Linked DNA regions of Homo sapiens. The protein of the gene in region 3 purifies or fractionates together with the protein of the main gene of each other region. This does not show direct contact. Each region holds a gene or a part of one and is shown on either strand. Other genes may lie near its edges.

Region 1 (2,267 bases), on a different chromosome or scaffold from region 3:
ATTCATAGCCTGCCAAAGATGGTGGGAGATTTTTCTTATTGTCAATTTCTTTTCTTTTTTTATTTTTAGAATCTAAGCATCGGGTTGGTGAAAAACTCAATTTCTCTATAATACTATAGTCCTTGACAAAAGTTTTTCAAAAATAGCCACTTGGGAATCTCTCTACTAGGAATTCTGAGGAGAAACAGGGAAGCAGGAGAAATAGAAAGAAAGAGGAGGTAAAATGGTTTGCACTCCCACAACAAAGCTATTTATGGCATCAGGGCACTGAACTGAGCTGTGATTTCAGCAATGAGGACAAGTAGGAAAGTATGACGGTAACAAATAACCCACTGGCCATTCACAAAGATCTTGGTGCCTCAGGCAAGTAGTCAGATGAGTTTGCTAAAAGACCATTGACAAACTGGAAACTGAGACTCATGGGATCTCTGGTTTATACAGCATTTAGCACTTTTCCTCTCCAATAAGGTTAATTAATCCAATATTGGCCGCGGTGGCTCACGCCTGTAATCCTAGCACTTTGGGAGGCCGAGGCAGGTGGATCACAAGGTCAAGAGATCGAGAGCATCTTGGCCAACATGGTGAAACCCTGTCTCCACTAAAAATACAAAAATTAGCTGGGGGTGGTGGCATGCGCCTATAGTCCCAGCTACTTGGGAGGCCAAGGCAGGAGAATTGCTTGAACCCAGGAGGCGGAGGTTGCAGTGAGCCAAGATCACGCCACTGCACTCCAGCCTGGGCGACAGAGCAAGACTCCATCTCAAAAAAAAAAAAAAAAATCCAATATAACAAACATTGTATGACATCTGTCATTTGCCATGCAGTATGATTGACATAACAGCAAATCCAGTCAGCATATCAAGAAAATTAAGATAATCATAATGGCAGAATGCCAGTGGTTCAGAGGAACTATAAGAAGAGTACCTAAGAAAGAGGTGAGTGGCAGGGAAGGCTGCTCAGATGGTATGATTATTGAGCTCACTATTGAAGCAGACATAGGAGTTTCTTAGACAGAAAAGGGGTAGAAGATATTCCAAATAGATAAAACAACATGTGGAGGGGCAAGAAACGTAAAACAGTATAGCCTTGACACCTTGCCTCATGATTCAGCCAGGAAACAGATGGCACAATTGTAGGTTAGCCGAAAAGAGTTTAATGAAGTGACTATTTCCAGAGATACAATCAGCATCAAGGATACTAATAAAGGATGGTGAAGCATTCAGAGCTAGCAACAGTGGGAAGCCATTGACCACCTGGTTGGAAGAGGAGAGGACAGAGAATGGTATTACCAGAACGTGGTGACAGCTGTAGCCATGGGAGAGGGTCCACCCTACAGAAACCCTGACTAGAAGCAGAGGAATACCACCACTGCTAAGCCACAGCCCAGCAGAAGCAAACAGAGGGATAAATACTCTGACTTCTCTTTCCTTCTGTCTCCAGCCAGCGCCTCCCATTGGCTGAACCCCCCTGCAAGCTGGAGGGCAAGGGAGTTTGGGAAAGCTTTTTGTGAAGGACAGCTTCCTCAGGCCTAGAGAAGGATGGAGACTAGATCTGGAGAGACATACAGAGAATCGTTAGCACACCTCAGATTCATATCCCAGGTCCATACAGTCTCCTGTTTCTTGAATAGGTGCAACACAAGACTGTACCTGTAACTAATACTGTGACAAGTCTGCTGTCTTCGTGAGTTTGGGCTGTTATAACAAATTACCACAGAATGGGGATTTAAACAACAGAAATTTAGTTCTCACAATTTTGGAAGCTGGAAGTGGATGATCAGGGAGATCCTGGTGCCAGCATGGTCAGGTTCCAGTGAGGGCCCTCTTCTGGGTTGCAGACAGCCACCTTGTATCCTCACATGGTAGAAAGAGGACTAGAGTGCTCTCTGGGGTATCTTTTTTTAAGGGCACTGGTCCCATTCACGAGGGTTCCACCCTCATGACCTAAATTACATCCCAAAGGCCCCTCCTCCTAATCCTAATACCACCACATTAGGGTTAGCATTTCAACATAAGAATTTGGGAGGGACACAGACATTCGATCCATACTACAGCCCTTGTTTCTTTTTCCTAAACTGATAGAGAGAAGAGTTCATTAAATTTTATGACAAGTGAGATTCTTAAGATCTAGTTTGTTGTACAACCTGTGCCCTTTACTCAGTCTTTCAATATGCTTATTTTTAACCACAATGATGTAATAATCTATCAGATTTTTGAAAGCAAAAACAAATAATCAGACAGTATGAGATGACATAGCATGTAAGTGCT
Region 2 (3,500 bases), on a different chromosome or scaffold from region 3:
GGCTCTGGATCCTCACACCAGGCTACCCTTTATGGATCTCCTCCTCATCCTGCTTAGACTCAAATTCTCCATTCTCATTAGTAGCCAACACTTATTCTGGCAATGATTCTCAGGGGAAGGGTCTCCTGAGATTTTAGGCTCATGAGGAAATGGGAGGGTCTTGTCAGAAAATTTTAGTGAGGTAATTCTAATATACCTAGACGTCATAGCTCTCTCCCAGGGCATAGAATTACTGAGTTAGAAGAAATAACTGGTTTGTTTTTACATAGGATGTGATGTCTAATATTGTACTAAAAATGAGGATGCTTATGCTATACTCCACTGGTACTATCCACTGGATTTATTTATTTTTTTTATTTTTTGAGACGGAGTCTCGCTCTGTCGCCCAGGCTGGAGCACAGTGGTGCAAACTTGGCTCACTGCAAGCTCTGCCTCCTGGGTTCACACCATTCTCCTGCCTCGGCCTCCAGAGTAGCTGGGACTACAGGTGCCCGCCATCACACCTGGCTAATTTTTTTTGTATTTTTTAGTAGAGACGGGGGTTTCACCGTGTTGGCCAGGATGCCCTCGATCTTCTGACCTCATGATCCACCCGCCTCGGCCTCCCAAAATGCTGGGATTGTAGGCGTGAGCTACCGCACCTGGCTGTTTTTGTATTTAGATAGAGTTTAAGTGCAAAGTAATCTGCTGATTTAAGGTTGTTTTAAATTCATATCTGAGGAATAAAGGATGGACAGGCAATTTCCATCCCTTTGATGTTCCATAGTTCTAGCTATTTATATCATTCATTTGCCCCTTCAGCATGGATTGGCTTACACCTGTAATACGTTCCAGAATAGCTGGATTTCTTTTGTTTTCCCATCGGTGATTTTCATAGAGTAGATGCTCAATGACATATAATGCAGAAAGGCCAAAAATAGAGGTAAGTAAAGCTATGAAAGAAAAGAAGAACGAAAGAGGAAGCAGAGTAGTTTGATTTTGTTTATTGCTGCTTAAACCAGAGAGATATGTTATTCTGGAAGGGTGATTTGCTTGTTTTTACACATATGCAGCCTGACTGTTTTAGGCTTGGCTTCTTTTTTGTTTGTTTGAGATGGAGTGTCGCTCTTGTTGCCCAGGCTGGAGTGCAGTGGCACGATCTCGGCTCACTGCAACCTCCGCCTCCTGGGTTCAAGCGATTCTCCTGCCTCAGCCTCCCCAGTAGCTGGGATTACAGGTGCTCGCCACCACACCCGGCTAATTTTTACATTTTTAGTAGAGGCGGAGTTTCGCCATGTTAGCCAGGCTGGTCTTGAACTCCTGGCCTCAGGTGATCCACCCACTTCAGCCTCCCAAAGTGCTGGGATTACAGGTGTGAGCTATGGCACCCGGCTGGCTTATTTCTTATAGGCTTTGGGCCGTTGCTAATTTTCCAGCTGATATAATACAATCCAGCTTTATTCGAAAGATAAGTATTCTAACTCTTGTTCGGTGTTTATTCAAACTTGTGTTTGCATGTATTTGTTTGGACTATAAATTTTGAGACTATAGTGAGTATGTTTTTGACTATAATATTTTAAATGGAAGATGAAATTTAAATTAGTATTTGCTTGTTTCTTTTTACAATAAAATAGGTAGCTTTGCAGTTTGGGGAGGGCTGTTTTCCATGATTGACTGTAGTATGGTTCAAGTCAGAGGAAAGGAAGATCCCTGGAACTCCATCACAAGTGGTGCCTTAACGGGAGCCATACTGGCAGCAAGAAGTAAGTAGTCATTACAGACATACTAGTAGAAGCCACACTTTTAGGAAAACCTCATCTGCCTCAATTGAATGACATCTGTAATATATAAAACTGATTATTGACCAGGCACATTGGCTCATGACTATAATTCCATCACTTGGGAGGCTGAGGCAGGTAGATTGCACAAGTCCAGGAGCTTGAGATCAGATATAGGGAGACCTGGTCTCTACAAAAAAAAAAATTTAATTAGCTGGGTGTGTTGGTGCATGCCTATAGTCCCAGCTACTCATGAGGCCGAGGCAGGAGGATCACTTGAGCCACCGCACTCTCACCTGGGCAACAGAGTGAGACCCTGCTTCAAAAAAAATAATAATTATAAAACTGAGCATTGTTTAATTTGGCATAGCATAAATATACAGTATATGGTGATTTGAAAAAAAAGTAAGGGGATCTATTTATTTGGAATATTTGAGAATGAAAGAGCATGGAATTCTAACCCATATATTACAGTGGTTGAGAGCACTTCAGGTCCCAGTTCTGCCATTAATTAGCTGTATGACTGGTCAGTTTACCAAACTTTTTATGCTATAATTTCTTCACCAGTAATCTGGAGTTAATTAATAATTACACCTGCCATATAGAGTTGTTATGAATAAGGAACTTAGAACCATCTTCTGGATCCTCAGGACAGAGAATTCCTTTGAGCTTAGTGGTTTAGACCAAGGGATTTGCAAACTATTTCTGTAAAAGGCCAGATAGTGAATATTTTAGGCTTTGTGGGCTGTGTGGTCTTTGTCATAGCTACCTAAATCTGCTGTCATAGCATGAAAGCAGCCATGGATAATACATAAACGAAACAGTATGGCTGTGTTTCAGTAAAACTTTATTTATTTATTTATTTTATTTTATTTCTTTTTTTTTTTTTTTTTTTTTTTTTTTTTTTGAGACTGAGTCTCACTCTGTCGCCCGAGCTGGAATGCAGTGGCGCAATCTCGGCTCACTGCAAGCTCTGCCTCCCGGGTTCAAGCGATTCTCCTGCCTCAGCCTCCCGAGTAGCTGGGACTACAGGTGTGTGCCACCACGCCTGGCTAATTTTTTGTATTTTTAGTGGAGACGGGGTTTTACCATGTTAGCCAGGATGGTCTCGATCTCCTGACCTCGTAATCCACCCACCTCGGCCTCCCAAAGTGTTGGGATTACGGGCGTGAGCCACTGCGCCCGGCCCTATTTATTTATTTATTTTCTTGAGACGGAGTCTTACTCTGTCACCCAGGCTGGAGTGCAGTGGCACAATCTCGGCTCACTGCAACCTCTGCTTCCTGGGTTCAAGCAATTCTCCTGCCTCAGCCTCCTGAGAAGCTGGGACTACAGGTGCCCGCCACCACGTCAAGCTAATTTTTGTATTTTTAGTAGAGACGGGGTTTCCCCATGTTGGCCAGGCTGGTCTCGAACTCCTGACCTCATGATCTGCCTGCCTCAGCCTCCCAAAGTGCTGGGATTTATGGCCTTTCAGTAAAACTTTATTTACAAAAATAGGCAGTGGGTGGACTGTGGGTGGCTGTAGTTTACTGACTCTGGGTCTTAGGCAATAAGAAAGAGTTTGGGAGTTGGGGGAGCATGTCACCATATGGACAGTTCTCTTCTTTACTATCTCTTACAGTAAACTAGATTTCTGTAAAAAATAATCTCTTTGTTATTAATGTCTTCAGATGGACCAGTGGCCATGGTTGGGTCAGCCGCAATGGGTGGCATTCTCCTAGCTTTAATTGAAGGAGCTGG
Region 3 (4,251 bases):
TAGGGGGTTCTCGTAGGGTCCCAGCCTCAATGGTTCCCGCCCTGGACCTCCAGCTGCCCTGACTCCCCTCTGGACACTAAGACTCCGCCCCTGAGGCTCCGCCCCCTCACGAGGTCAAGCAAGACACAGTCGCGCCCCCTCGGAACGGAGCAGGGACACGCCCTTCAGAGCCCGTCTCTATGACGTCACCGACAGCCATCACCTCCTTCTTGGAACAGCACAGCCTGTGGCTCCGCCCCAAGGAACCACTTACACAAAATAGCTCCGCCCCTCGGAACTTTGCCCAGTGGGACTTCCCCTCGGGACTCCACCCCTTGTGGCCCCGCCTCCTTCACCAGAGATCTCGCCCCTCGTGATGTCAGGGGCGCAGTAGCTCCGCCCACGTGGAGCTCGGGCGGTGTAGAGCTCAGCCCCTTGTGGCCCCGTCCTGGGCGTGTGCTGGGTTTGAATCCTGGCGGAGACCTGGGGGGAAATTGAGGGAGGGTCTGGATACCTTTAGAGCCAATGCAACGGATGATTTTTCAGTAAACGCGGGAAACCTCACCTTCTTTCTGCCTGAGCTGTGAGATGAGTGGAGAGCAAACGGGTGGGCGGTGAAGGGCAGATGAGGGAACCGGTACCGCCTTGCAACTCCCCCTTAAACCCCTAGTAAGTTTTGCCTAAAGTCTCTGTCCATCAGCCCTATTGCAGCAAGACTCCTGGGTTCTGCTTGGGTTGGTCTTGCCGCCTCCAGGGGAAGGGGAAACCAGGTCACAGTGCCTCCCAAACCTGCCCTCCCAGATCCCGGACCTCTCAGGGGACAGCGGGCGGGGCCTGATCCACCCTCTGGTTTCTGACCCTAGAAGACCTGCCTTTCTTCGGTTCCCGGTTACTGGCAGCAGCCCCCTCCTCCCACAAAAGATCAGGTTCCAAGCTTCTCCTTTTAAAAGTACTTAGAATTCAGCCCCCAGCTCTCTCCTCCCTCACACCCAGGAATCCAGGCCCCTAGCCCCTCCTCCCTCAGACCCAGGAGTCCTGGCCCCTAGCAGCCCCCTCCTCCCTCAGACCCAGGAGTCTGGGCCCCCAGCCCCTCCTCGGTCAGACCTAAATCCCAGGTCCCAGTCCCTCCTCCCTTAGATTTAGGAGTCCAGGCCCCCAGCCTCTCCTCCCTCAGACCCAGGAATCCAGGCCCCCAGCCTCCTCCCCTCTCAGAACTAAAATCTTGGCCCCCAGCCCTTTATGTTTCAGATCGTAGAGTCTCAGCACCGAGTCCCTCCTCTCCCTAGCCTCAGGAGTCTGAGATTCCAGCCCCTCCTCCCTCAAGATTTCACGTTCAATCCCCTCCGCCCCTTCTCACTCACACCCAGTGTTCCAGTTCCCAGAAGCTCCCCAGGCTCTAGTGCAGGAGGAGAAGGAGGAGGAGCAGGAGGTGGAGATTCCCAGTTAAAAGGCTCCAGAATCGTGTACCAGGCAGAGAACTGAAGTACTGGGGCCTCCTCCACTGGGTCCGAATCAGTAGGTGACCCCGCCCCTGGATTCTGGAAGGTGAGGTGCAGAGGTACTCAGATACAGACATCAGGCCCCGGACCCTCCTTCTCCAGATTCCAGGACCCCAGCCTCAGATGCCCTTCTCTGTCGAGATCCAGCAGTCTGGACCCCGGCTTCCTCCTCTCCCTAATTTAGGAGTCCCAGCTCCCAGCTCCCTGTCCCCTCAGACCCAGACATCGAGGACTCCCCCCTCCCTTGGAATGTAGGAATCCAGTCCCCCAGCCTCCTCCTTCCTCCAGAGAAGCCCAGAACAGCCCCAGATACTCTCGGCTGCCTCCCCAGTGCCCAAATCCAGAACTGGGAGCTCAGGCTCCTCCTTCCTGTTTACCGGCCCCGCCCTCTCCATTTCCCAGACCTCACCATGGGACGCCCCCGACCTCGTGCGGCCAAGACGTGGATGTTCCTGCTCTTGCTGGGGGGAGCCTGGGCAGGTGAGGAGGGTTGCGGAGGCCTCCGGAGGGGAGGGATCTGAAGGCAGCAGTGGCGCTGGGGAGTCTGTGGGAATGCCGCGGGGGTTATGTGGGTGCGTGTGCACGGATGTGAAGAGTGCGATACGGTGCAGGAGCCTCTGTGGGCTTTCCTCAGGGTGGACAGAGGCAAGAAACAGGTAGCAGCAGGTAGGAGTAGGTTCCGTGATGCTGTAAATTGTCTGAATAGCTACAGCCTTTGGGGGCTGCTTGCTTGGGGGCATAGATTCACCTGGGAGTACTCGGGGCCTGTAGACTCATGTGGAAGCATGTGGGGGCATTCTTGGGTGTGTGACTCTTGTATGATGACACATGGACTGAAATGAGTGTCCCCGTGTGGCAGCGTGTGGAAGCCTGGACCTCCTCACTAAGTTGTATGCGGAGAACTTGCCGTGTGTCCATTTGAACCCACAGTGGCCTTCCCAGCCCTCGCACTGCCCCAGAGGGTGGCGATCCAACCCTCTCCCTCCTGCTGCAGGACACTCCAGGGCACAGGAGGACAAGGTGCTGGGGGGTCATGAGTGCCAACCCCATTCGCAGCCTTGGCAGGCGGCCTTGTTCCAGGGCCAGCAACTACTCTGTGGCGGTGTCCTTGTAGGTGGCAACTGGGTCCTTACAGCTGCCCACTGTAAAAAACCGTGAGTGGATGATGGGGGCAGAGGTCAGCTGGGGCTTAAGGAAAGAGGGGGCTGGGGTTTCGACTCAGGAAGGAGAGAGCTGAGGACTGGACTCCTGGGTCTGAAGGAGGAGGGGGCTGGGGGCAATACCCCTGCCTGGGTCCCAAACTATCCCCACCATTACAGGAAATACACAGTACGCCTGGGAGACCACAGCCTACAGAATAAAGATGGCCCAGAGCAAGAAATACCTGTGGTTCAGTCCATCCCACACCCCTGCTACAACAGCAGCGATGTGGAGGACCACAACCATGATCTGATGCTTCTTCAACTGCGTGACCAGGCATCCCTGGGGTCCAAAGTGAAGCCCATCAGCCTGGCAGATCATTGCACCCAGCCTGGCCAGAAGTGCACCGTCTCAGGCTGGGGCACTGTCACCAGTCCCCGAGGTAGTGGGCTTGTCCACTAATGGGAGGGAGAGGAGGAGCTGGTTGGCCCAGTGGAACCCAAGCTATTGGCAAAGCTTGGTCCCCCAGAGGGAGACAAAGAAGGGAAAGTGATCATGATGTTGAGATTCACAAGCAGGAGTCATATGAGAAGCCTCGAAGATCTGACTACTAACAAGAGTGGTGAGAGAAAGAACCAACTAGCAGATTGTTAAGCAGGGCCAGAAAAGCCCATCCTGTATGGCGGAGAGCACTACCCTATGGGACCTTTGGTTGTATAGGATTTTATATAATCTTAACACACTTGGGATATTTGGACTTCTCAGAGGCCCAGGAAAACAGGCTCCTAAGCACCTTCTCCCCCACCTCCCTCCTTTTTTTTTTTTTTTTTTTTTTTTTTTTTTTTTTTTTTTTTGCAGGGGGACACAGTTTCACTCAATCGCCCAGGCTGGAGTGCAGTGGCACAATCTCAGCTCACTACAATCTCTGCCTCCTGGGTTTAAGCGATTCTCGAACCTCAGCCTCCCGAGTAGCTGGGATTACAGGCACCCGCCACCACGCGAGCTAATTTTTGTATTTGTTGTAGAGACAGGGTTTCGCCATGTTGACCAGGCTGGTCTCGAACTCCTGACCTCAAGTGATCTGCCCGCCTCGGCCTACCAAAGTGCTGGGATTACAAGCATGAGCCACCGCCCCTGGCCTTTTTCTCCTTCTTGAACCCAGGAAACCTGGGCCCTGGTCACCTCTTCCCTCAGACCCGGGAGTCTAGGCCCTTCTTCTCCCAGGACCCAGCAGTCCTAGCTCCCTCTTGACTCTGGACCCCAAAATCTGGACCTCCAATGAAGCTGTCCCTTTGGGACTCCAGAATCCAGAGAGCCCCTCGCCTTCCTTCACAGTGAAAACATTGGGACTCACCTAAGAGAGTCAAGGAGCTTCTCCAGGAAGTGGCAAAGTCAGCATTCAGGTCCCTGCCTGCCTCACTCCTGCTCTGAATGCTTTGGATGAGACAGTTTGCGGCTGTGGAAACACACGTGCTCGCAAATCAAGTAGATCAGTTCAAACTATGGCTCTGCCCTTTCTCCCTGGGCAAATTCCTTTCCATCTCTGAGCCTCACTTTCCTTATCTGCAAAATGGGAATCATTAACCAATAGATTTTTTAGCTACGTGAGGGTTCAGGTTACATCAGTTTTCTT
Region 4 (2,472 bases), on a different chromosome or scaffold from region 3:
GGGGTTCTCTAACAAGGGGTCCACAGATTAAGTCTGAGTGTCTGTGAACTCCCTAACACTGCAGGAAAATCTACTGTGTGTGTGCGTAGGTGCACTTCTGTGCAGGGCGTCCAGAGTTCTAGTCAGATTTTCACAGGGATCCTGGACTTGCAAAAGGCTAAGAACCAACAGATCAGAATGAAGAGTCTTTTCTGCCTTAATATTATAATTTCAACAGAGGTGGAGAACTTAAATTTCATGATTTTGGAATAGGCAAAAATTTTCTAAACAGGACACAAAAAACTGCTAAACATATAGAAAACAAAATGGATAAACTGGACTACATGAAATTATGAACTTCTTTTCACCAAAAGACACCATTAAGAGAGTGAAATGACATGGCTTACAGCCATAATCCCAACACTTAGGGAGGCCGAGGCGGGCAGACCATGAGGTCAGGAGATCAAGACCAACCTGGCCAACATGGTGAAACCCCGTCTCTACTAAAAATACAAAAAATTAGCCAGGCGTGGTGGCATGTGCCTGTAGTCCCAGCTACTTAGGAGGCTGGGACAGGGGAATCGCTTGAGCCCGGGAAGCGGAGGTTGCAATGAGCCGAGATCACGCCACTGCACTCCAGCCTGGCCACAGAGCAAGGCCCCATCTCAAAAAAAAAAAAAAAAAAAAAAAAAGAGAGTGAAATGACAAGCCACGGAGTGGGGGATTTTGACATCACATGTATCCAACAATGGAGTTGTGCCCCGACTACAGAGAGAATTCAGTAAGCAAAAGAGACAACTCAGTAGGAAAATGAGCAGAAGACTAGAATAGACGCTTCACAAAAGAGCATATCCAAATAAACAAATGAAAAATGCTCAACTTCCTCAGTCATGAGGAAAATGTAAATTAAAAGATCAATATGGTACCACTAGTCACCCACTAGAGTGCCTAAAATGAAAAAGACCTAAACAGGCATTCAGGGAGGTGCTGCAACAGAAGCTCTGCTAGTGCAAGTATAAATGTGGACGATTGTTTAGCAGTTTCTACTAAAGCTGAACAGTCACATGCTTTATCATCCAGGTATTCTACCCCTCAGTACATACCTGACAGGAATGCATACACCCACCCACCAAAAGACAGGTACAAAAATATTCACAGCAGCACTACTTCTAATAGTCCCAAGCGGGAACAACCCAAGTATCCATCAATAGTAGAATGGATACATTGCGGTATATTCACACAGCAGAATACTGCACTGGGCAGAAATGAACCACTGCTACTCCCAACACGATGAATCTCCCTATGTTATAAATGAACAGGGAAAGGCACAAAAGAGGACATGCTTATACATGGTTAAAAAATGGGTAAAACAGAACCGTGGCACTGGGAGTCAGGCTGGAGCTTACTCTCGGAGAAGCAATGCCTGTGACGGGCATGAGGGGTACTGGGGACTGGAATGACTGTATTTCTTTACCTGGGCACTAGGTCTATGAGGTGTTCCCTTTGTGGAAATTCATCAGATTTATGATTTTTGCACTTTTCTATCTATATGGAGATATTTCCTACTACCAGAAAATTTAGAATCTTTCATTTATTTGGTCACACATAGAACAAATATTTATTGAGCACCTGTATAAGCAAGACACTGAACTAGTTGCTAGGGATACTGGTACAGATAACAGCTATGGTCTCTGCCCTCACAGAGTCCACAATCCATAGACTTCTACTTGGTCTACACTAAGCTTACTTTCTTCAATTTTTTTTTTTTTTTTTTTACTCTGTCGCCCAGGTTGGAGTGCAGTGGCATAATCAAAGCTCACTGGAGCCTCGATCTTCTGGGCTCAAGAGATCCTCTCTCCTCATCTTCCTGAGTAGCTGGGGCTACAGGTACATGCCACCACGCCCGGCTAATTTTATTTTATTTTTGTAGAGATGGGGTCTTGCTTTGTTGCCCAGGCTGGTCTTGAACCCTTGGCCTCAAGCCATCCTCCCACCTTAGCCTCCCAAAGTGCTAGGATTACAGGTGTGAGCCTCTGTGCCCAGATTACATTAAGCTTACTCTTTCTACAGGAAAGGATGATGATTTAGGAATTCTGCTCACTCCTTCCCCAGTGGATAAAAATGCAACATCTCTTTAGATGCATTCCCTGTAGAGAGATCCTTATTTACCTAAAGCTAGTCATTATGAATTCTGGTTAGAATCTAAAGTCAGGATTTTGTTTTAGAAGCATGCAGAAAGCTATGTCACTATATGGCTCCTTAGGTTTCTCTTCTGATTTCCAGCTTGTTTCACATGACCTACAGCGAAGTTAATACACACGTAAGACTATGAACTCCCCGTGTGATCTTAAAACAGATGGGCTACTGACAGACAAACTCTCCAGGAAACAATGTGAGGTAGAAATATGGCTAGGCTGTGAAAGATCTCTATCTTTCCATAATCTTACGTTTCAGACCTTTGATAAAATTAGTATCCCCAAAACATCCTTCCAG
Region 5 (3,500 bases), on a different chromosome or scaffold from region 3:
CTGTCACCGTGAGTCTGTGTCTGGGTCGTGATCCCGTGCTGTCACCGTGAGTCTGTGTCTGGGTCGTGATCCCGTGCTGTCACCGTGAGTCTGTCTGGGTCGTGATCCCGTGTTGTCACCGTGAGTCTGTGTCTGGGTCGTGATCCCGTGCTGTCACCGTGAGTCTGTGTCTGGGTCGTGATCCCGTGCTGTCACCGTGAGTCTGTGTCTGGGTCGTGATCCCGTGCTGTCACCGTGAGTCTGTCTGGGTCGTGATCCCGTGCTGTCACCGTGAGTCTGTGTCTGGGTCGTGATCCCGTGCTGTCACCGTGAGTCTGTGTCTGGGTCGTGATCCCGTGCTGTCACCGTGAGTCTGTCTGGGTCGTGATCCCGTGTTGTCACCGTGAGTCTGTGTCTGGGTCGTGATCCCGTGCTGTCACCGTGAGTCTGTGTCTGGGTCGTGATCCCGTGTTGTCACCATGAGATGGTGTCTGGGTTGTGATCCAGTGTTGTCACCGTGAGTCTGTGTCTGGGTCGTGATCCCGTGCTGTCACCGTGAGTCTGTGTCTGGGTCGTGATCCCGTGCTGTCACCGTGAGTCTGTGTCTGGGTCGTGATCCCGTGCTGTCACCGTGAGTCTGTGTCTGGGTCGTGATCCCGTGCTGTCACCGTGAGTCTGTGTCTGGGTTGTGATCCAGTGTTGTCACTGTGAGTCTTTGTCTGGGTTATGATCCAGTGCTGTCACTGTGAGTTTGCTGCTCAGCTCCTCCAGCTTTGACCACTGGTGGGTTTCCCCTCCTTCCCCGCAGGGATGCTTCCGGCCCAGCTTCTGTTTCTCTGCCCCAGCCCTAGAATGAGTTGTTTCCAAGGAGCCCTGGTTCTTTTTAGGGGAGCATAGAAACTTCAGTCTGGGCACTGGGAGGGCCGTTGCTCCCGGGGTGTCACAGCTGCTGGCCCTCTTCCTGGGTAGAGCTAGGCTCTGTGTGTCACTATCTCATTTCACACATTTGATTGCTTCTCTGTCGTATCCACCTATCCATCTGTAAGTATACGAAGGTCAACCTGGTCCATGCCGATGACTCTGACTCTCACCTGGCACACGGTGTATTCCAGCCTTCCGTCCTGGAACATGGTGTATTCCATCCTCCCGTCCTGGCACACGGTGTATTCCAGTCTTCCCTGCTGGCCCATCTGAATCCTCCCTCTCTGCTAGTGGGAACCTGGCTCCCCTGACTCCTCTAGCATCTGCTCAGCCCTGGTGCACGTGCGAGAATTGTCCACCCAGGCCCGGGGGGGAAAGCCCTGGAGTGCAGCGTTTGTGTACAGCTCCTTCTGGCCTTGCGGTCTCCACTCAGAACATTTTCCGGAGTTGCTTAGGCGGCTCCTGCCCTCTGGCCAGTGTGTTTCTGTTTCACATCCGTGCGTGTGGAGCCTGTATTCTATCTGCATCCCCCAACCTCCTGGTCGGGTCTTCCCCCAATAGTTTGTGCACATTGAAGTTCATCTCGTGTAATGCTCAGTGCTGTGGGCTTTGCCTCCATCACCCCAGCTCCAGCCCCAAGTCCCCCGTGCATGGGAGTGACCACTTCCCCTGCACCAGCCCCTGGCACGCCCGGGTCTGTCTCCCGTCCCTCTGGTTTTGCCTTTTCCAGTGTGACATACGAATGAAATCACGCAGTATATAGCCTGTTGGGTCTAGATTCTTTTGCTTAGCAAAATGCACTTAAGATTCATCCATGTTATTGCCTGAACCAACAGCTGCATTCTTATCTCTGATTATTTTTCTGTTGCACAAATGCACCTCCGGTTATTTATCCACTTCCACCGTGAAGGATGTCTTCCTTGTTTCTAGTTTTTAGTGGCTATGAACAGAGCTGCTATGAGCATCTGCATGAGGCTTCTGTGCGAGCACACTTTCAGGTTGAAGGCCTGAGAGGTGCAGTAGCTGATTTGTAAGGTAACCCTTCATTATCTGGGTCAGATGCCACCGTCTGCCATCCACAGTGGTAGGCCACAGCATCCCCGGCACAGCGAGGGCACTCCTGCTGTCCCGAACCTTCTGCAGCATTGGGCACTGTCCATGTTCGTGTTTTTTTTGTTTTGTTTTTTTGGTTTTTTTTTTGAGACAGTCTTACTCTGTCGCCGAGGCTGGAGTGCAGTGGCGCTGTGTCGGCTCACTCCAACCTCCGCCTCCTGGGTTCAAGCAATTCTCCTGCCTCAGCCTTGCGAGTAGCTGGGATTCCAGGTGTGCACCACTATGCCCAGCTAATTTTTGTATTTTTAGTAGAGACGGGGTTTCACCACATTGGCCAGGCTGGTCTTGAACTCCTGACCTCAGGTGATCTGCCCACCTCGGCCTCCCAAAGCGCTGGGATTACAGGCATGAGCCACCGCGCCCGGCCTGGGCACTGTCCGTTTTCAAGCACTTCGGCCATGTGACGTGTGTGTGGTGACAGCACGCTGTGGTTTTCATGGGCATTTCCGCAGTGATGAAGGATGTTGAGCATCTTTTCACGTGTTATTTGCCATCCGTACACCTTCCTATGTCTGTTCAGACCTTGTGGCCTGGTTTTTTCTTCCCACCTTTAACATTGGGTTGTTTGTTTTCTAATTATTGAATTTTAAAAGTTCTTTAAATATTCTAGATACAAATCCTTTATCAGATGTGTGATTTGCCAGTATTTTCTTCCAATCTGCGGCTTGTGTTTTCATTCTGTTAAAAGTAGCTTTTGCAGATCAAAAGTTTTTCAGTTTGATAAAGTTCAATTTACAGTTTCTAATTTCATAGATTATGCTTTTGGTGTTGTATCTAAAAACTTGTTGCCAAACCCAAGTCACATAGATTTTCTTCTATATTTCCATCTGGAAGTCTTATGCTTTTATGTTTTACATTTAGGTCTATGATCCTTTTTGGTTAATTTTTGTGTAAGGTGTGAAGTGTGTTCAGGTCCATCTTTTTGCATGTGGACATCCATCTGTTCCAACATGATTGTTACAGAGACTCTTCTTTGTTTTTTTATTTATTTTGTAGAGACTGAGTCTCACTATGTTGCCCAGGCTGCTCTGGAATTCCTGGGCTCAAGCGATCCTCCTGCCTCAGCCTCCCAAAGTGCTGGGATGACAGGTGTGAGCCACCACGCCCGGCCCAAGGCTGCTCTTTGTCTGTGTAGTTGCCTTTGAACCTTTGTCAGAATTTGTTCACTCTGTGTGTCGGGTCGGGGGCAGGGGGGCTGTGTCTGGGCCGTCTCTTCCATTCCATTGAGTTCTGCGGCTCTTCCTTAATCAATACTGCGCTGTCTTGATGTGGTCTTGATTAGCTTTTTAGTAAGTCTTGAAATTGGGTAACATGAGTCCTCCACCTCTGTTCTTTTCCAGATGATTTTGGCTTTTTAATCCCTTTGCTCTCCCATGTATATTCTAGAATCAGCTTGTCAGCCTCGGCGGAAGCACTGACTGGGTGTTTGGTTCAGATTGTGCCGAATTTATGGATCAAATTGACACCTTAATGATTTTGATTTTTCC
Region 6 (3,500 bases), on a different chromosome or scaffold from region 3:
TCACCTTGTACAGATGAGGACTCCCAGCTGTAGAGGCTGAAGGAGCCACACTGCAGGTAGAGCAGGCATTCACCAAGGCGTGTGTGATCCCAGGGTGCAGCTCCCACCCTTGGCTGCCTGGGTGCTCTTTTCCAGACCTACTGTCTTGTGAGATCCCCTTAGGCACCCAGCACAGGCTGCTGTCTGAATTTAGAACTGAGCCTGTTCAATTGATGGCTCAACATAGGCCTCTAAAAAAACAAGTCTGATGCGGTTTGGTACACCTGTGGTTGGCTTACTTATTTGGTGTTCGTTTTTTCAGTTTTCAGAAAGGTCAGTTGAAGTGCTGCTGGTGGCTGTAGCATTGATACACAGGGGAGGTTTTTGATCTGTGAGCTTTCTAGGAGGCAGTTGCTAAGCTGCACTGATACCTTGAGCCCCTTTCCTTTGGAACAGTGTGGACCCCAGGTCATGGCTCCCAGAAGTTTAGGTTCTGTAATTTGGCTGCAGGCCTAGAGAACAGGATGCTGCAGACTTGGACTAATGGTGAACTCTTGCCTCCCCCCAGGGATATGTGGTGCCTGTCATAAGCTCCAGAGAGCTGCCTTCCACAAGACCAGCAGAAGAGTGGGCAAACATGAAATCCAATCCTGCTATCCAGGCTGCCATTGACCTCACAGCGGGGGCTGCAGGTACAGTCATGTGCCTCATCACCATGTTTCTGTCGTTGATGGATGGTGTATCTGATGGTGGTCCCATGAGATTATACTACCATATTTTTACTGTACCTTTTCTGTGTTTAGATACATTTAGATACATAAATACCACTGTGTTATAGTTGCCTGCAACATCCAGTACAGTAACATCCTGTACAGGTGTATAGCCTAGGAGCAATAGGCCATACCGAATAGCCTAGGTGTGGAGTAGGCTACGCCATCTAGGGTCAGGTGTGTATGCTCTATGATAGCACAATGACGAAATTGTGTAATGACATGTATTTCAGAACATGTCCCAGTCATTAAGCAATGCCTAACTATAATCCCAGAGAAAACCCAGTTCTCTCTATTCCTCAACTACTCTCTAAATGAGATCAAATGAAAGTGGTATGAAAATACTACCTTTCTCCCTCCAGTACTTTACCTTTGGGATTAATCCATTTGATGGAAGTTTAGTATTGTTCAGAGAGTAGCAGAAGCTAGAGGAGTGTCCGTTATTGTTAACACCTTGTCAGTCAGGGTGATGGGTGGAAGGTGCCCAGTACAGCTGGAAAACAGCTCAGAGGTGAAGCCACGTGTCCATTGTCACCTGGCTGGGATATGCAGGTGATGTGGTTCTTCACTTCAAGCCTGGCAGTCTTCAGAGCCCTTGTTGTGCAAAAATAACACCATAGCATCTCCTGGGAAACACCACTTACTGTCCCTGCTAGTGTTGGGAAAGAAAGGAGGACACTCTTAGAAATGTCTTTAAAAGGCTGGGCGCAGTGGCTCACGCCTGTAATCCCAGCACTTTAGGAGGCCAAGGCGGGCAGATCACCTGAGGTGAGGAGTTCAAGACCAGCTTGACCAACATGGAGAAACCCCGTCTCTTCTAAAAATACAAAATTATCCAGGCGTGGTGGTGCATGCCTGTAATCTTAGCTACTTGGGAGGCTGAGGCAGGAGAATCGCTTGAACCCCGGAGGCGGAGGTTGTGGTGAGCCAAGATCGCGCCATTGCACTCCAGCCTGGGCAACAACAGTGAAACTCTGTCTCAAAAAAAAAAAAAAAAGACATGTCTCTGAAAATGAGACTGATAATGGACTGTGTCTTAGAGCCGTGAAAGTTGTAGGATTTGCTGGGAATGTCAGCTAACCTGAGCCTAGGGGCCTGAGCCCAAGAGCCTGAGGCTCCCCCAGCACAGGGAGGTGCTACCTGTGATAAGGGGTAGTGCTGGCACCATGCAGGCTACTCCTTAGAAAGATCAGCTTGAACATGCAGGAAGAGCAGGACCCTCAGGCTGGGAAACAGGGCGGAATGGGAAGTGCATGGTGGTAATTTGGTTCTCCAGAGTCCAGAAGTAGGAGGAGTGGCTGGAATACTGATTGCCCAAAGGAAAACCCTGGACTACCCTGGGCTCCCGCAGGATTCTCATAGTAGTTGCAGCTCCCTGGAGTGGGGAGGCCAGCGGGGGTGTTGCCCAGTGCTGTCCTTATCCAGCACACCCCCCACCCCCACCACCAGCAGATGAGTATGGTCATGAATATGGTCACCTCATCAGTCATTTGCTCAATTGTGAAAAAGAAATTGTTCAGAGAAGAGCAAAGTGTTTTTCCATGAGCCAAAGGTCAGCCAGGGTATGCTAATGAGGAAGACTGGAGAGAGCGCGTCACCGTCACCGAGCCTAATGAGGAGCACTGGGCAAGGGCACTTCTCCCAGGGCAGAACCCACAAGGAGCGTCCCAGCCCCAGATGCCCAGGGAACGGAAGGCCAGTGGGGGTCTGCCCAGTAGTCTCTTGCCCACTGCGTGCCTTTAGGCTACAGCCTCCCAAGCCCCTTTCCCCCTCCCCTCCCCCATGCCACACTGGGGAGGACGCTGACCCTGAGAATGGTGCAAACATCTGCCTGCCCCAGGCCGCCTCTCACCAGCGAGTGAATGCTCTTGGGCTCAGTTCTGTTTCTGCAGAAGGAGGGTGTTTAGCCACATATAGTCTCAGCTTTTGACATTTTATGTCTTTCAGTCAATCTGTCAAAGATCTAGAACCTATGGTGATAGAATTTAAAAGTTTACCTTTTCCTATTTATGTGCATACAGGTATTTGGGTACCACATTTATAATTTACAAGTTAGTTTGAAAGATAGAAATTGCAACAGTATGGTTGGGAGCCTGGTATGTAAGGCATTTGCTGGTGGGCATGTTTTGAACATGTATTGATCCCTTATGTATACTGACACACTGTCCCCATCACTGTTGGACAGGTATTTCCCCCTGTGCTGGCGACACAGGGACGCCCCTCACCGAGGTAGAGATGCTGTGGGTAGTCTTAACTTCTGAGGACAACGAAGCCCATTCCTGGGGGGACAGGATAGGGAGGGGGAGCGAGACATGGTCTATAGGTTGGGGGCTGGGCAGAGGAGGTGCCTAGCAGTGACACAGAAACCTCTGTTCTGCTGTGAGGCCTATGGAATGCAAATGGAACCCACTTTTGAGGATCTTGGAGTCTTGGAGTGCTGGAGCTAGAGAGACCTTTAGACATTGTTGGCTCCAATGCTCGTTGGATATGTAGAAAAAGGCCCACAGAGGAGCAGTAGATTTGTTCAAGGTTACACAGCAAGATGGTGTGAAGACAGGGCAGGACTGTGATCCCTGGGTCCCTTGTCTGGTGTCGTTGCTGTCTCTGCTTTAGTACTCCGTAATGCATCTGCAGCACACTGGAGGGGAGGGTTAGTTTGGAGCCTTTGGGCCCTGCCTTTCTGGATGTGGAACTTGCTGGGCTTTGGGAATTTTCTGCCAGCCATTGATAGGAGCAGAGGACCTGTTGTGT
Region 7 (3,500 bases), on a different chromosome or scaffold from region 3:
AGAGTCTCTCTATGTTGTCTAGGCTGGATTCGAACTCCTGGGCTCAAGTGATCCTCCTGCCTCAGCTTAGTAGCTGGGACCATAGACAGGCACCATGGTGTCTGGCTGGGTTTGCAGGGTTTTTAAAATACCAAAGCACACTATGAAACATACTCTCTCTGTTTAGTGGTCTAATGGATGTGCTGACATTGTCTTGAGAGACCTTTCATTTCAAGAATACCAAAATTACAACCAGGATAATGTTTGAGGCCAACTTTAACTCGACCTAACTTTCTCTTCAAAGAAGTTTTTCTTTATTAAATAGTAATATTCATGATCAGTGAAGGAGCATACTCACCAAGTGAACATAAGGCACAAAGTATCCAAAAAGTGCAAGTGGTATTCCAACTGCCCACACTGCATAAGCTGTCACCTTGAAGATGGCAAAATTGAAAATTTTTTTTGGAGGACTGAACTTTTTCCTGGAAAAGAGGGAGGATCCGCTACCTCCACTCTCTTTATCTTTGGTACTGGTAGCAAGAGGTCGGTAAGTAAAGCCAGCCAGAAAGAGAACAAACATGAAGATGCAGAGCACCCTCAATGTGTAAAAGAGGCCCACGCTGTCAATCAGAACCCTTAAGAGCAAAGGCAGCAGGATTGTGAAGACACTGCTGCCAGCAGTGACAATGCCATTCACCAGTCCAAGGCGCTTCTTGAAATAGTGTCCCAAAATGACCAATGAAGGCTGGTATGCAAAGGAGCAGCCGCAGGCAAATATGATTCCATAGGTAAGGTACAGAGGCTCGATGGAACTGTATAAAGATGAAAAAGATGGAAAGCAGCTTTCAATATTGTTACTGTGTGCTTGGTAGAATAAAATCTTATAGTATAAGTGGGTTTTTGTTCATCAACATATTTTCTACAAGTAAAAGTTAACCAAAAAAAAAAAAAATTAACCAAAATAGAGGGAAAAACTCAGTAAGTCAAGCATGTAGCACTAAACGTATTTTAATTTAATCTGAATATGTGAAAAATAACCATTAAGGTCATCAGTGATTTTGTTCAGCCACCTCTTTCTGTGGATTTCAGGTGACGCACACAGCACTGAGTGAGAACTGTGCTCTCCACAGCTCAGAAATAAAGGTTGGTGCCAGGAAGGGTAAAATCAACAGTGATTCAATTAACAAACCAAAAACCTAGTCTCAATGAAACATTTTTTAAAAAAGTTAGAATTAACTATGAAATCTAATTATTTCATGGAGTTTTTCCAGGTACTTACCAAACAAGGTAGTAAAAGAAAAGGCCGCATTTTATATTTTTTCCCCAAGGTTATGTCAGGAACATTTGCACAGAGGTGCAGTTGTGCCTGTTTTTGCTGGCCTAAGGGCTGTAGACCAACCTTCGCCCTGTACTGCACTGTTCTCAGTATTGTGCAAGACAACAAGAAATCATATTCTGACTACAGAAAGACTTAAATTAAGTGTATTCCTTTAGTGATCCCAGTTTGTAAGCTGTAAGGCCATGCATGTGTCAAAAGAATAATGGATTAAATAATCTTACAGTTTAACCAAATAATTGCACATTTCTTAGGAAGATAAAGGATCATATCATTATGTTCTTTGAAACAATTATGGTAAGGAATAAAACTAGTTAAAGTTTTTTGAAAAGGCTATCAGTAGTAAAAGCAAACAATTTGTTAGAAAGTAAGATTAAAGTTGGTTAATAATTAAAATTTTGGATAATAATGCTAGTCTAGCAACATGCTGAGGTAATCATAAGGAACTCTAGAATCTGATAAAATTAAGGCATGTTGGCAATCCTCTCTCTGAGATGCCCTTCTCCCTCTACTAATCCACAGCTAGCACCACCTTCAAATCAGGCTCAAGAATCACTTCTAGGCTTTCCCAAATTAATCTCACCTCACTCTGATCACCCTTTACTGAATCTCCACTCTTTGTTTAGCCAACATATTAAGCAACTACTGTGTACCAGATACATTGTGGAAAAGAATATTAAAAATCTGGTCCTTGGCCAGACGTGGTGGCTCACACCTGTAATCCCAACACTTTGGGTGGCCAAGGCAGGAGGATGGCTTGAGACCAGTCTGGCAACATAGCAAAACCCCATCTCTATTTAAAAAAAAAAAAAATAGCTGAAATTAGCTGGGTGTGATGGCACATGCCTGTAGTCCTAGCTACTCAGGAAGCTGGGGCAGGAGGACGGCTTGAACCCAGGAATCCAGGCTGCAGTCAGCTATGATAACACCACTGCATTCTGGCCTGAGTAATAGTGAGACCCTGTCTCAAAAAAAAAAAAAATGTGGTTCTGCCTTCAAGATATTCATAGTCTGCTTAAAGAAACAAGACATCTATCCCAAATAATAATAACACAGAACAAAACAGAAATTAATACTTCATTCATTCTGTATCAGTTTTTCCACCTAAGTAGTTTTCCAGATAATTGTAACTTACTTAAAGTGCTTATTTGTTTTTATTTAACAATTTTAAAGAAAAAAATTTAAGTCTATTATACATTTCTCTCTGCCTTCTTCAAAGTGTATATTAAAAATACTGTTCACAGCAGAATCATCAGGAACATCAGTTCCTGTACAGTGGTATCACTGTACTGTAATGCTCTCAGTTGGAAAACCACAGAGCTTCTCCCTCCTGCAGAGTGAAGTATATGAGCTTTATGATGGTATTTGCACTACTGCTGAACCCTTTTCACTTCCAGGTTTTCCCTTCAGTAACACATGGTTCCAGTTTGTGACGTTTGGCAGCCAAATAAGTGCAATGTAAATGAGTAAGGCTGTCGGATACCAATCATATGTGCAAAAAGGATTCAGAGAAGGGACATGGGTGTGATTGACCTAAGTTGTTGGAGAAGGTTTTCCTCAGAAGGCAGAACTGGAGCTAGAGGAAAAAATGGACCTGCCACTTGACACTCAGAATCTATACCACATTTCCCCTTGCTCCTGTATCTTGCTCTCAAGTTTCAGTAGCCTTTGATCAGCAAGCTAAATAACGAAATTTAATAGAATATATGAGAATATTACATGTAGTAAGGGAATTTTGGTTTCAATAAATTTTGTTTCACTTAGAGGGTAGAGAAAGAGAGACAGAACTGGGTCACATCAAAATATATGTCATAATTTTTATTGCTCAGTGGTCAGAAAAATTTGAAAAACATTGCTTTGTATGTGTGTTTTGTTAACAAACTAGGTAGTAGATTACATAAGTTGTCTACCTCTCAGTCCCCTCTCTACCACAACTAGAGTTGTAATACATTCGGCAAGTGGTAGAGCCACAAGTACTGACAATAGGTACCTGGAAGCTTCCAGATCAAAGAAGCTATCTGATGAGGTATTAATAACATTAATTACATTAATAATAATGTAAATATTATGTTGCTGCTAAAATAAATCATCTCATGGAATTACCTACAAGAATCTTATTCCAAATAAAACTTTTTTCTTTAAAAAACAATTTTAGAAGAAAAAACCCATAAAGGTACTTTAAAGA

What was found.
Region 1: the proteins of KLK8 (region 3) and RAB39A purify together in Homo sapiens (affinity purification with mass spectrometry, with the first as the bait; one large-scale study listed by BioGRID). This does not show direct contact.
Region 2: the proteins of KLK8 (region 3) and TIMM17A purify together in Homo sapiens (affinity purification with mass spectrometry; one large-scale study listed by BioGRID and IntAct). This does not show direct contact.
Region 4: the proteins of KLK8 (region 3) and TAMM41 purify together in Homo sapiens (affinity purification with mass spectrometry, with the first as the bait; one large-scale study listed by BioGRID). This does not show direct contact.
Region 5: the proteins of KLK8 (region 3) and LMF1 purify together in Homo sapiens (affinity purification with mass spectrometry, with the first as the bait; one large-scale study listed by BioGRID). This does not show direct contact.
Region 6: the proteins of KLK8 (region 3) and SLC25A15 purify together in Homo sapiens (co-immunoprecipitation; 2 studies listed by BioGRID and IntAct, with this or other methods). This does not show direct contact.
Region 7: the proteins of KLK8 (region 3) and SLC16A10 purify together in Homo sapiens (affinity purification with mass spectrometry; one large-scale study listed by BioGRID and IntAct). This does not show direct contact.

Annotation. Positions count from the first base shown.
Region 1 is NC_000011.10:107,959,448-107,961,714, forward strand, and holds part of RAB39A (ras-related protein Rab-39A), read left to right. Parts: intron 1-2,267. UniProt on the Homo sapiens protein: The small GTPases Rab are key regulators of intracellular membrane trafficking, from the formation of transport vesicles to their fusion with membranes.
Region 2 is NC_000001.11:201,962,003-201,965,502, forward strand, and holds part of TIMM17A (mitochondrial import inner membrane translocase subunit Tim17-A), read left to right. Parts: intron 1-1,613; coding exon 1,614-1,742; intron 1,743-3,430; coding exon 3,431-3,500. UniProt on the Homo sapiens protein: Essential component of the TIM23 complex, a complex that mediates the translocation of transit peptide-containing proteins across the mitochondrial inner membrane.
Region 3 is NC_000019.10:50,998,805-51,003,055, reverse strand, and holds the start of KLK8 (kallikrein-8 isoform 1 preproprotein), read left to right. Parts: upstream 1-1,451; 5' UTR 1,452-1,524; intron 1,525-1,880; 5' UTR 1,881-1,888; coding exon 1,889-1,958; intron 1,959-2,337; coding exon of another isoform or gene 2,338-2,472; coding exon 2,473-2,632; intron 2,633-2,797; coding exon 2,798-3,060; intron 3,061-4,251. UniProt on the Homo sapiens protein: Serine protease which is capable of degrading a number of proteins such as casein, fibrinogen, kininogen, fibronectin and collagen type IV. Also cleaves L1CAM in response to increased neural activity.
Region 4 is NC_000003.12:11,792,414-11,794,885, forward strand, and holds part of TAMM41 (phosphatidate cytidylyltransferase, mitochondrial isoform a precursor), read right to left. Parts: intron 1-2,472. UniProt on the Homo sapiens protein: Catalyzes the conversion of phosphatidic acid (PA) to CDP-diacylglycerol (CDP-DAG), an essential intermediate in the synthesis of phosphatidylglycerol, cardiolipin and phosphatidylinositol.
Region 5 is NC_000016.10:957,485-960,984, reverse strand, and holds part of LMF1 (lipase maturation factor 1), read left to right. Parts: intron 1-3,500. UniProt on the Homo sapiens protein: Involved in the maturation of specific proteins in the endoplasmic reticulum. Required for maturation and transport of active lipoprotein lipase (LPL) through the secretory pathway. Each LMF1 molecule chaperones 50 or more molecules of LPL.
Region 6 is NC_000013.11:40,792,611-40,796,110, forward strand, and holds part of SLC25A15 (mitochondrial ornithine transporter 1), read left to right. Parts: intron 1-547; 5' UTR 548-616; coding exon 617-671; intron 672-3,500.
Region 7 is NC_000006.12:111,174,503-111,178,002, reverse strand, and holds part of SLC16A10 (monocarboxylate transporter 10), read right to left. Parts: intron 792-3,500; coding exon 338-791; intron 1-337. UniProt on the Homo sapiens protein: Sodium- and proton-independent thyroid hormones and aromatic acids transporter.